Regions from separate parts of the Homo sapiens genome. Here region 2 is linked to region 1. Evidence: fine-mapped expression QTL. A gene starts in region 1. The other region holds a variant in brackets. All regions are shown on one strand. Distances are between the middles of the regions.

Region 1 (5,156 bases):
GCAGTCGCCGGGCTGGGAGGGGGCGGGGGACGCTCGCGCACGCGCACCAGAGCCCCGCGCCCGCCGCCAGTGCCTGACGTCTCGAGCGCAGGCCAATCCGGAGGGCGCCGGAGTCGGGTGCGCGGGGGGCGCGCGCCGTGGGGAGCGGGGTGTCCGGGAGGGCCGGGCCGCGGCAGCACCAAGGACAGCGCCGGGTGGGGGCGGGGCCGAGCGCGCAGGCGCACTAGGCTGCCGCGAGCGCGGGTGGCGCGGGCTTTCCGGGGCGTGGAGTCCCGGGGGAGCGGGGCGAGAGGCGCCCGCGGCCTCCCGCCTTTCCCTTGGCCCCGCTCAGGGCGACCGAGCCGCGAGCAGCAGCGGGGCCAGGTCCATGGTGAGGGCGAGGCGGCGGCCCTGCCAGCGCACGTGCGAGGGCAGCGCAGGCGCGCCGGGCCCGTACTCGAAGCAGGCGCTGAGCTCGAAGGCCAGGGCGGAGCGCACCAGGCCCACGCCGCCCGCACGCTCCGGCGCCGGGTGGTACAGGCGCCCGTTGGCGGCCAGGGGCAGCAGGCGCGCCGGCTCGAAGGGCACGGCCAGGGCCTCGCCACCGCCGCAGTAGGAGAGGCGCGGAGGCCCGTGGTCCGCGGTCAGCAGGTGCGTGAAGACCACCGGCCGGTCCTCGCAGCGCAGGAAGTTGCGCTCTCTGCCGCAGGGCGAGAGGAAGGGGAAAGCGGCCTCGTAGCGCCCGCTGCGGTTGGGTCTCAGGCGGGAGAAGAAGGTGACCAGGAACTGCGGGTCTGGGGGATGAAGGGTGCGTGTACTCAGCGCGCTGGGCTCCCAAGGCCTCCGGGCCCAGGACCATACCGAGGGCAGGCGCCGACGGTAAGAGGTTCGCCTGGCCTCACTCAGCGGGGCTCCTGAGCGCAGGACGCCCACTCCTTGGTGCGCTGGGCCCGTCGGCAGAGTCGGGGAGCCCATCAGGGGCTGCCCGGAAGGGAGAAAGAAGGGGCTGGAGAGGGAGGCACAGCATTACCTTTGAAGCAGGTGATGAAATTCTTCATTTTGGAATCATCCAGGAAAAGCTGCAGATAGAGGGCCAGGCCGTGATAAGTCCCAGCGTGCAGGTGGGGGCGGGGAAGCTCAGGAGGTCCTGAAGCTCGGGAGGTCCTGAACCGGCCCGAGCCCACTTTTCCTGCTTGTCTGTGCACACCGCATGCAGGGAGGCGCGTGAAAGGTAAACCTGGGGGCCCCGCCGACTTATCCGCGTCTATGCGCACCTCTGCTCCCTGGTCAGCCAATTCTTTCCCGCACCTTTTCCCTCTTTTCAAGTTTGTAATCAGTTGTACCACCTCCTCCGCGGAGACTACCTGGCCTGCTGCCTCCCGGACATGCAGCTGCCTTTTGACAGGGCTTCCAAAAAAAGGCAGGGCGGCCCGGGTGTCTCCCTGGCAGCGGCGAGAAGTCAGCGCCGGGGCTGGGGACTTGTAGGACAGAGTCCGAAGCTGCACAACGCAGCAGGGACGCGGCCCATGTAGGAGCCTCGGCCCGGACCGACCCAACTCCCCGTCTTTCCAGCGCGCTCTCCTCCAGCTCTGAGGAGTCGAGGTTGCCCACCGCGCAGGCCCCGCCCACCCACCCACCCCCTGGAACGTCCCTCCGGCCCCGCCCCTCGAGCAATGGTCCCGCCCACAGAGCCACGCCCCCCCCCCCGCCCCGCCCAGAGACCTCTCCCGGCCCCGCCTCTCGAGCAACGGCCCTGCCCCCGCCCACCTGGCCCTGGTGGTCCACGTAGTAGAAATACTCGCGGGTCCGCGGCTCCGGACTCTGGCCCTGCGTGTAGGAAACGCCCCCATCCCCGCTGCAGGCCCGGGCTCCCCGCGACCGCGCCAAGGCCAGGGTCCGGAGCGTCCCGCAAGGCGGCCACATTCTCCTCCCGCGCCGGAAGCGACCAGCAGGTCACGCCGGGGGCGGTGCTGCGCGAACTCGCGCCTGCCCGCAGTAGCCCCGCGCTTCGCGTTCCGGCGGCGCCCGCCTCCGCGACCCGGGCCCGGCGCTCTTCCCTCTCCCTCGGGCCTCGGGGGCTCGCCCGCCCTGGCCTTCCGAGAGGCGTGTGCCGGTGACGCCCCTTCCGGTCCGCCCCGCGTCTCTTCCCGCCCCCGGCCGCGCCCACAAGGAACGGGAGGACGCGCAGGGTCCATGTGCACTTTATTCACTCGTGTCGTCGCCTCTCGGGTCCATGCGTCGGGGCGAGCGTCTCAGCCGGGCGGGACCGCAAAGGCCCCGGGACCACCCGACTGAGGACGCCGCCCAGGCCTCGGCAGGGCTGGGGCTTTTGTTTTTAATAAATAAAAACGGAACTCTAAAAAATATATATATAAAAACTGGGGAGAAATTAAGTTTTACAACAATTGGAACTCAAAATTCCAAAATGGAAAATGTACAAACTCGGTCCCCCAGCAGCTCTGGCCCCGAGAACGGACAGTCCCGGGCCCGGCGCCTTCCCGCTCGCTCGTCTCCTGCAGGTCTGGGATGGGGATGGGGTAGAGCTTGGTTTTTGGTCAGAAGCCAAGAAAAAAGATCGGAGAAGAAAAGAAGGAATGACCTCAACTTGCTCTGCACGGAGGACGGGGACGGCTCAGAGATAAATAGCATTTAGGTTAAAACTATGTCATTAGCAAATTTAGTTCTTATATCTTTCCCTCTATTTATATCTCTATACACGGTGGGCTGCGATGCAGGATAGATTCTGGATTTACAGTTACACGAAGAAAAAAATACTCTCGCCCCTCCCCCACCCTGCCCCCAGAATGCCTGCCCAGCCCTGCTCCCTACCCCAGAGGACTTTGGTTTGGGGGCCCCCACCCCACCCACCGAGAGCCTGCCAGGCCCCGGGCCCACTGTCCTGGAGCCCCCAAACTCCTGAGCAGTCACCAGCTGGGGACCACGGGCCGAGGGAGGGAGAGGAGGCGGGGACAGGTCGGGAAGCTCTCTCGGGGCTGGGAAGAGCTGCAGGCCAGGACGAGGACAGGAGAAAGGGAAGGAGAGACCGGGGCGGCTGGGCAAGGCCCAGGCCAGGGCGCGCAGGAGCCACAGGGAGGCAGCCCGGCCCCAAGGAGGCAGCGTCGCTCGGCTCCAGGACACAGAAGGCACTTTCTCGGAGCTGACCCGCGGCCAGCGGAGGGCGAGGCGGTGCCCGCGGGAACTGGCCGTGAGGTGGGGGGCCAGAGGCGCCCTCCCCGCCGCTGCTGTGCCCTGGCTGCACCCTCAGACCAGGCAGAAGACGTGGGGAGCGCCGGGGCCAGGGGCCTGGGGGAGTGGAGGGGGCTCCAGGGCTGGGCCGGGCGATTCTGGCCCCTCTGCCGGGAGAGCGAGTGCGGAGTTCGGCCTGGCTGGGGGCGGCAGGACATCCCTCCTGTCCCCGGGCGCCCCCGCTACAGCACACCCTCCATGAAGCTGGTGTCCAGGTGCTGGATGAGCACCCGCAGGAAGGACATCTCCTTGCGGGTGTTCTCGAAGATGACGCGCGGGTCGTCGGACTGGCAGCGCAAGCAGTTGGGCGCCATCACCATGGCCAGGTTGCTGACATCCATCTTGGTGACCGCGACGTTGGCCGGCTGCACGAAGACCTGGTGGAGGAGCGAGGGTGGGCGCGGAGGGGCGGGGGCGGGGCGGGGAGGGGAAAGCAGCGGGGACCCCCGGGGAGGGAAGTACCTGCAGGAAGCGGATGAGGTAGCACAGCACCATGCGGTTGATGCGGGGCAGCGCGTGCACCACGGCCACCGCCGCCTCGGGGCTGTCGTAGTGCGCGATGCACTGCTCGTAGAACTCGTGCGGGATCAGGGGCTCCTCCAGCTCCCGGTACCACAGCTTCAGCAGGGACGCTGGGGACACAGCACGGGGCTCAGCGGCCCTGCTCGGCGGGCACCCCTGGGCCAAATGGGGTCCCGTGGCGGACATGCATGGAGGGGTGCTGTGGGGGACAGGCTGGGAGGGCCGGCTCATTCTGGACAGGGCCCATCTGGCCAGGCTGGGCCCTGACCCCAGAGGGCCTTTCGGCTCCTGGGGGCCTGAACTCGATCCTGGAGGCATGTGGGTCACGCCAGCAGAGTTGTGCAAAACAGGATTTTTCTCAGGAGTCGTCTGTGTAGCCACCGTGAGGGGGTGTCTGCAGAGCAGGCACAGCTGAAGGGCACAGGGCAGAGAGCAGCAGGTGGGGAGTGGGCTAGACATAGCAGGCACGGCAGAAGGGCACAGGGCAGCGAGCAGCAGGTGGGGAGTGGGCTAGACATAGCAGGCACGGCAGAAGGGCACAGGGCAGGGAGCAGCAGGTGGGGAGTAGGCTAGACATAGCAGGCACGGCAGAAGGGCACAGGGCAGCGAGCAGCAGGTGGGGAGTGGGCTAGACATAGCAGGCACGGCAGAAGGGCACAGGGCAGGGAGCAGCAGGTGGGGAGTGGGCTAGACATAGCAGGCACGGCAGAAGGGCACAGGGCAGCGAGCAGCAGGTGGGGAGTGGGCTAGACATAGCAGGCACGGCAGAAGGGCACAGGGCAGGGAGCAGCAGGTGGGGAGTGGGCTAGACATAGCAGGCACGGCAGAAGGGCACAGGGCAGGGAGCAGCAGGTGGGGAGTGGGCTAGACATAGCAGGCACGGCAGAAGGGCACAGGGCAGGGAGCAGCAGGTGGGGAGTAGGCTAGACATAGCAGGCACGGCAGAAGGGCACAGGGCAGGGAGCAGCAGGTGGGGAGTGGGCTAGACATAGCAGGCACGGCAGAAGGGCACAGGGCAGGGAGCAGCAGGTGGGGAGTGGGCTAGACATAGCAGGCACGGCAGAAGGGCACAGGGCAGCGAGCAGCAGGTGGGGAGTGGGCTAGACATAGCAGGCACGGCAGAAGGGCACAGGGCAGGGAGCAGCAGGTGGGGAGTGGGCTAGACATAGCAGGCACGGCAGAAGGGCACAGGGCAGGGAGCAGCAGGTGGGGAGTAGGCTAGACATAGCAGGCACGGCAGAAGGGCACAGGGCAGGGAGCAGCAGGTGGGGAGTAGGCTAGACATAGCAGGCACGGCAGAAGGGCACAGGGCAGGGAGCAGCAGGTGGGGAGTGGGCTGCATTGCACAGGTAGGCCTCGGGGTGCCCAGCAGACACCTGGGGAAACTGTCCAATGGGCAGAAGGGAGGA
Region 2 (5,156 bases), 72 kb before region 1:
TCAGCACCTGTGGACTAGGCCTAAGGCCTGCTGAGTCAAAGGACCTACATGTGGAGAACCGACAGTGAGGACAAAGCCCTCTTTCATGGAATCCACATCCACATGAACACCACCCGTTACCTGCATTCAATCCTCAAGTTCTCAGTTTGGTTAAAAATTAAAATTACAGGCGGTGGCTCATGCCTGTAATCCCAGCACTTTGGAAGGCCGAGGCAGGCAGGTCACCTGAGGTTAGGAGTTCATGACCAGCCTGGCCAACATGGTGAAACCCCATCTCTACTAAAAATACAAAAATTAGCCATGCATGGTGGCGAGCGCCTGTAATCTCAGCTTCTCAGGAGGCTGAGGCAGGAGAATGGCTCGAACCCGGGAGGCGGAGGTTGCAGTGAGCCGAAATGGTGCCACTACACTCCAGCCTGGGAGACAGAGTGAGACTCTATCTCATGAATACATAAATAAATAAAAATTAAAACATACACAGTTGCCTGAGGCAGGGAGTGAGACTGGCTCTGACTGGGTTGGGGACAAGCTGAGACCTGCCCCCAGGAGAAGGTGTGAAAATCCGCCAGCCAAGTCCAGGGGTCAGTGGTGGGTGGACTACAGGCAGGAGGGGGCACAGATGCTATTGAAGCAGCTGTCCTGTGGGAGGCACAGACCAAGGGCCCACACCACTGTCCTCTCACAGCCCCCCGCCCCCCGGAGGTATGCCACTCCACGTGGCCAGCTCTAAACACCTCCTGGTGAGACTGCCGGGGGCCTTGGACGAGGTTCTGGGTCCAGCTCTGCACGTACAGTGGCCTTAGCACAGGCAAAACAGCACTCTTCTTGGCTGTGGCCCGACCCCCAAGGGAGTTCCAGGCAGGGCTGGAGCATCTAATGCCACCCACCAAGGCCACCTGGCCTCTCTTCCTGGCTCTGCATAGCCCAGGAAGATTCGAGGTGGGGTCCTAGACCCTCCTAAGGGAGCACTGAGGCTGCCAAGCACATCACCACTTACCTCCCAGCACTGCGGGCCTCTCCCCCGAAAGCCACCCCAGCTCCTGGGCCGGCCCCTGGCCACAGGCCTCATTCCTTTGGGGCCTCCAGATCCCAGCATGGGCTCAGTCAATTCCATACCATGAGGAGGCAGCAGTGACCCTGCCCTCCTCTGGCTCTCTCTGGGCCTCCAAGAGGACCTGCAAGCTCCGAGGAGACACAGGGCCATTGCCCCTTCAGCCCCAATAGCTCCATTCAAGTCAGAACACAGGGAGTCCCTAGAGTGCCCTGGACTACACTGGCCCAGTAGCCAAGGGACACAGCCACACTCACCCCCAGACCCTCCCCACTGGTCAAAGGACATCTCTAGGTGCATGGCCCGGTCCCGACCAACACTCAGCCCAGGAGGTCTGTCCACAGCAGGACGGTCCCTGGTCACATGCTCCGGAGCCTCCCCACCATCTGGGTCCCCTCAGCCCCTGCGCAAGACTCTGGCTCTACACCAAGGCCAGGCCACAGGCAGCTGCATCCTTGGCCCTGGCAGCATCTGGCCAGATGCACTTGATTCTGACTTGTGCCCAACACCCAACAGAAGCTGGGCCCTGGAGGGCGCCGCACAGTCCAGGGGATGGCGTGGGCCAAGGCCCCCAAGAGCCCGGGCACCTTCCAGAGCAGCTGCTGTGGCACCCAGGCCAGGCCACCTCTCCCCACCAGCCAGGAAGACCCCAAGGGAGGGGAGAGGAGGGGATCCACAACCCCCCACGACCAAGAATGACGCCATGGGGGATGACATCATGGGCGAGACATCACAGAGGATGATGTCAGAGGGGTGACATCGTGGGAAATTGACATCACATGGGGAATGACATCATGGGGGAGACATCACGGGAATGATATCACGGGATGATGTCACATGAATGACATCACAGGGGGGACATCATGGGAGACTGGCATCACATGGGGGGATGACATCACCGGGGGATGACATCACAGGGGCATGACATTGCAGGGGAATTGCATCATGGGGGGTGACATCACGGAATGACATCACAGAGATGACATCACACTGGCATCATGAGGGAATGACATCACAGGGGATGACATTACGGGGATGACATCAAAGGGAGTATTGACATTACAGGGGATGACATTGTGGGAAATTGACATCATGGGGGACTG[ACATCATGGGGGGATGG/A]CATCATGGGGGGAATGACACCATGGGGATGACATTAAAAGAGGTATTGACATCACAGAGGTGATACCACAGGGGATGACATCATGTGGTGACAGCACGGGAATGACGTCACATGTATGACATCACAGGGGAATGATGTCATGGGGGAATGACATCACGGGGGAATGACATCACAGGGCCTCCTGGGCCCTCCTAGGGCAGATGTGGGCTTGAAGCCACAGTGCTGGGCTCAGACGCCAGCCCACAGATCCCCAGTAATATGACCTTGGGCTCCCCTCTTGGGGCCTCAGTTTCCTCATGTGCACAGGTGATGAGTATAGGACCAGCTTCATTCTGTGCTGATGAGGTGGGATGGGACAGGGTGGCACTGCCCCACACCCAACAGGCAGACAGGAAATATCACCACCTTGGGCAGCCATGGCAGAGCCCCTGGGGCTGCCAACCCCAGGAGCCAGACCCCAGGCCCCTCTGCAGATGCTGATACACACAGGTGGCCCAGAAATGGCCATTTGCACCTGCATCCTCAGGACAGCACCCAGCCCTCCCCCCTGCTGGCTACAGGCAGCTCACGTGACCCCCATGCAGACCCAGGGTCTCCACCTGAGCTACTTCTTCCCTGGGGTTAAAGGGGAGCTAGATGGGCGGAACAGGCTCAAGGAGCCCTGACCCCATCCCCTGGCTGAGGGCCCCCACGATTTCCTGGTGGTCCCAAGGTCTCTATGGTCAGCTGACCTTGTAGGACCCCTTTCACACCTGGACTGCATGGTTCTCTCAGACCCTGGGGACCTCCTGTTTGCCACTGGAGGATGGCACAGTGCCCAGGCCCATGGGAGCAGTGCCCTCGCTCACCCAGGGGTCAGGGACCCACAGGCCCTTGACAGAGGTCGTCAGAGCCAAAATGCAGCCAAAGGGCTTCCCTGTGGCACAAACCCCAAAAGCGCTGCTCAGCCAGTTGGAGGTCCCCCTTCCTCTGCCATCTGCATGCAGGCAAGGCCTCACCAGGGCCAGTGGTGCTTCAGGGCACACCCCATGCACCCCGCGTGCTCGGCCCCTAACCTCCCGAATCAAACATGGGTCTGAGAGGGACTGGCACGTTGTCCAAGGCCGCACAGCTGTTAAGCATGAAGCCAGGACTCGAACCCTCCACCCAGGCTGGATTTGAAGTCCCTCACCTGCTACTGCTGTCAGACCTCAAACGGTGGCCAATCAATCCCCAGAGTCGGGCCCACATTCAGAACAAGGCTGCTTAGATCTAAAAGTAACTCAAATGATAACCACCACAGAAAACAAAAATTCCAACTAGCCAGAGATTCCAGAACATCTTCCTTGCTCCTGTGTTTTAGATACCTAAGCAGACGTATTTACAAAGATGTTTTCTGCCACTTTCCTCACCTCAAAGAACGAGTCAGCTGCAGTCCTGTACTGCTGCCCAGGAGACTGGGGAAGAGGGGCCCGAAGCTCCTTGGACATGTGGATGGTGACTCCACCCCCCCAGGACTGCACACTGTTGGCCTGGTTGGGGGTGTGGGGCTCGGGCAGAGAGGAGCCATCTCTGCTTCCTGGGCTGTTATCAATGGACTGTCAACATGTGGCATAGAGACATGGGCGCTACAGGCGGGAGGGCCACGGCACACACCAACCCACCCACAGAACAGAGTGGACACACCCTGGTCAGATGGGGCAGGAGGGGATCCTTGTAGCAAGGAGAGAACAAAGTCTCAAAGTGGGGGCGCTGCCTCTGCCGGGCCCAAGAGGTGGGCAGGGGCAGGGAGAGGACACCTCAGGCAGGAGAGCATGGGAATGGCAGGGCACTGTGCAGGGCCGAGTTAGAGGGAGCGGCTGGACCACATCTGTGAGAGGCCCCTGCCCGGCACTTACACCCGAGTGAGCCCGTTTTTGCCTTAAGAATGCCCCATGAGGGGTGGGAACAATGCGCAGTCCCTTCCTCCAGGTGCCAGCACCAAGGCCCAGGGCCTCATCTGACAGCAGCAGGAAGGGTCAGGGCCAGGTCTGTCTTACGCAGCATCACACTGGGCCTCGTCTGAAGGGCCAAAATGGAGGGAGAGAAGTCAGGGATGAGGCTGCGGCTGCAACGTCCCGGGCACCGCTGAGGCTGTCTCTTCCCAGAGGAGGTGCCCCATGGGCAGAGGTGCCAACAGGCCACACTGCCCTCGGGCCGCAGAGCAGGGAGCCGGCAGGAACGACCTGACCACCTGCGCGGCCTGGTCAGGCCAGAAGCTCCTGCACAGGTGTAACTGCTGCCCCACCAGCCCTCCTGCCACCCACCTGAGACTCCAGAAGGTGGCTGCACACCTTGTCAGGCCAGTCCCCCAGAACATATCTAACACCCACACAGAGAACATAAAAGCTGAGTCTTGCTGTACTGGCTGCAGCCCCAACCTGACGTGAGGCAGGACTCGGCGGTGGCGGAAACCTTTTGCATGAGGGCCTCAGTCTGACACCCAAGCAGGTTTCCCAGCCTGTGAGGCATCATCGTACGGGCACAGGCCCATGGGTCAGCTGGCCCTGCAGGCCCAAAGGCTCAGACCTGGGGCACCACCCGAGGCTTCCCTGCCAGCACTGGTGGCATCTGGTATCTGGATGACAAGCTCTCGAGTTACTGAGGACCCAGCCAATTCCAGAGGCCCATGGAGTTGTCCCCCACAGCCCCAGTGCCAGGGAGAACACACAAAGCTCAGCATGGCCACTCCCCTCTTCTCACCAGAGTCAGGGACTGTCTAAGTCAGCCCCCAGCTTGGCTGGTGCCCACCCTGAGCCATGTGTTCTGCTGGGGTCAGGAAAAGCGTTCTAGCAGGAACAGAGGGTGGAACCTGCTGCATTCCTGACACTGGCTGGCTCGAGACAGCCAATCAACGTGGTCACCAAGGAAAGCTAGTAGAATATGGTAGACTGAACCCAAGCTGGGGTGATGGCCAGCATGGGCCCAACCAGGGACACGCAGAAGGCAGCATGTGGGGGCCCACAC

What was found. PIP is the estimated chance that this variant, and not a neighbour inherited with it, causes the effect.
Region 2: its variant is the best candidate, but not a certain one, in a credible set for the expression of C8orf82 in whole blood (INTERVAL, PIP 0.77).

What each region holds. Positions count from the first base shown.
Region 1 is chr8:144,527,015-144,532,170 of GRCh38, forward strand. It overlaps C8orf82 (chromosome 8 open reading frame 82), which reads right to left and starts at 2,097. Exons shown (of 3, transcript NM_001001795.2): 1 at 1,747-2,097; 2 at 1,010-1,058; 3 at 1-773. The coding sequence starts at 1,902. The coding sequence ends at 328. ARHGAP39 (Rho GTPase activating protein 39) reads right to left here. Exons shown (of 12, transcript NM_025251.3): 11 at 3,688-3,857; 12 at 2,165-3,602. The coding sequence ends at 3,408. It overlaps LRRC24 (leucine rich repeat containing 24), which reads right to left and starts at 19. Exons shown (of 5, transcript NM_001024678.4): 1 at 1-19. RefSeq lists silencers at 1-203, 1,331-1,625, 1,583-1,632, 1,643-2,232, 2,964-3,063 and an enhancer at 746-1,602.
Region 2 is chr8:144,454,872-144,460,027 of GRCh38, forward strand. The region is part of intron 2 of TMEM276-ZFTRAF1 (TMEM276-ZFTRAF1 readthrough); the gene reads right to left. The region is part of intron 1 of ZFTRAF1 (zinc finger TRAF-type containing 1); the gene reads right to left. Among named protein-coding and RNA genes, the nearest start is that of MIR10400, 5.1 kb to the right of the region's middle. The variant ACATCATGGGGGGATGG/A (reference allele first, on the strand shown) is at 2,155.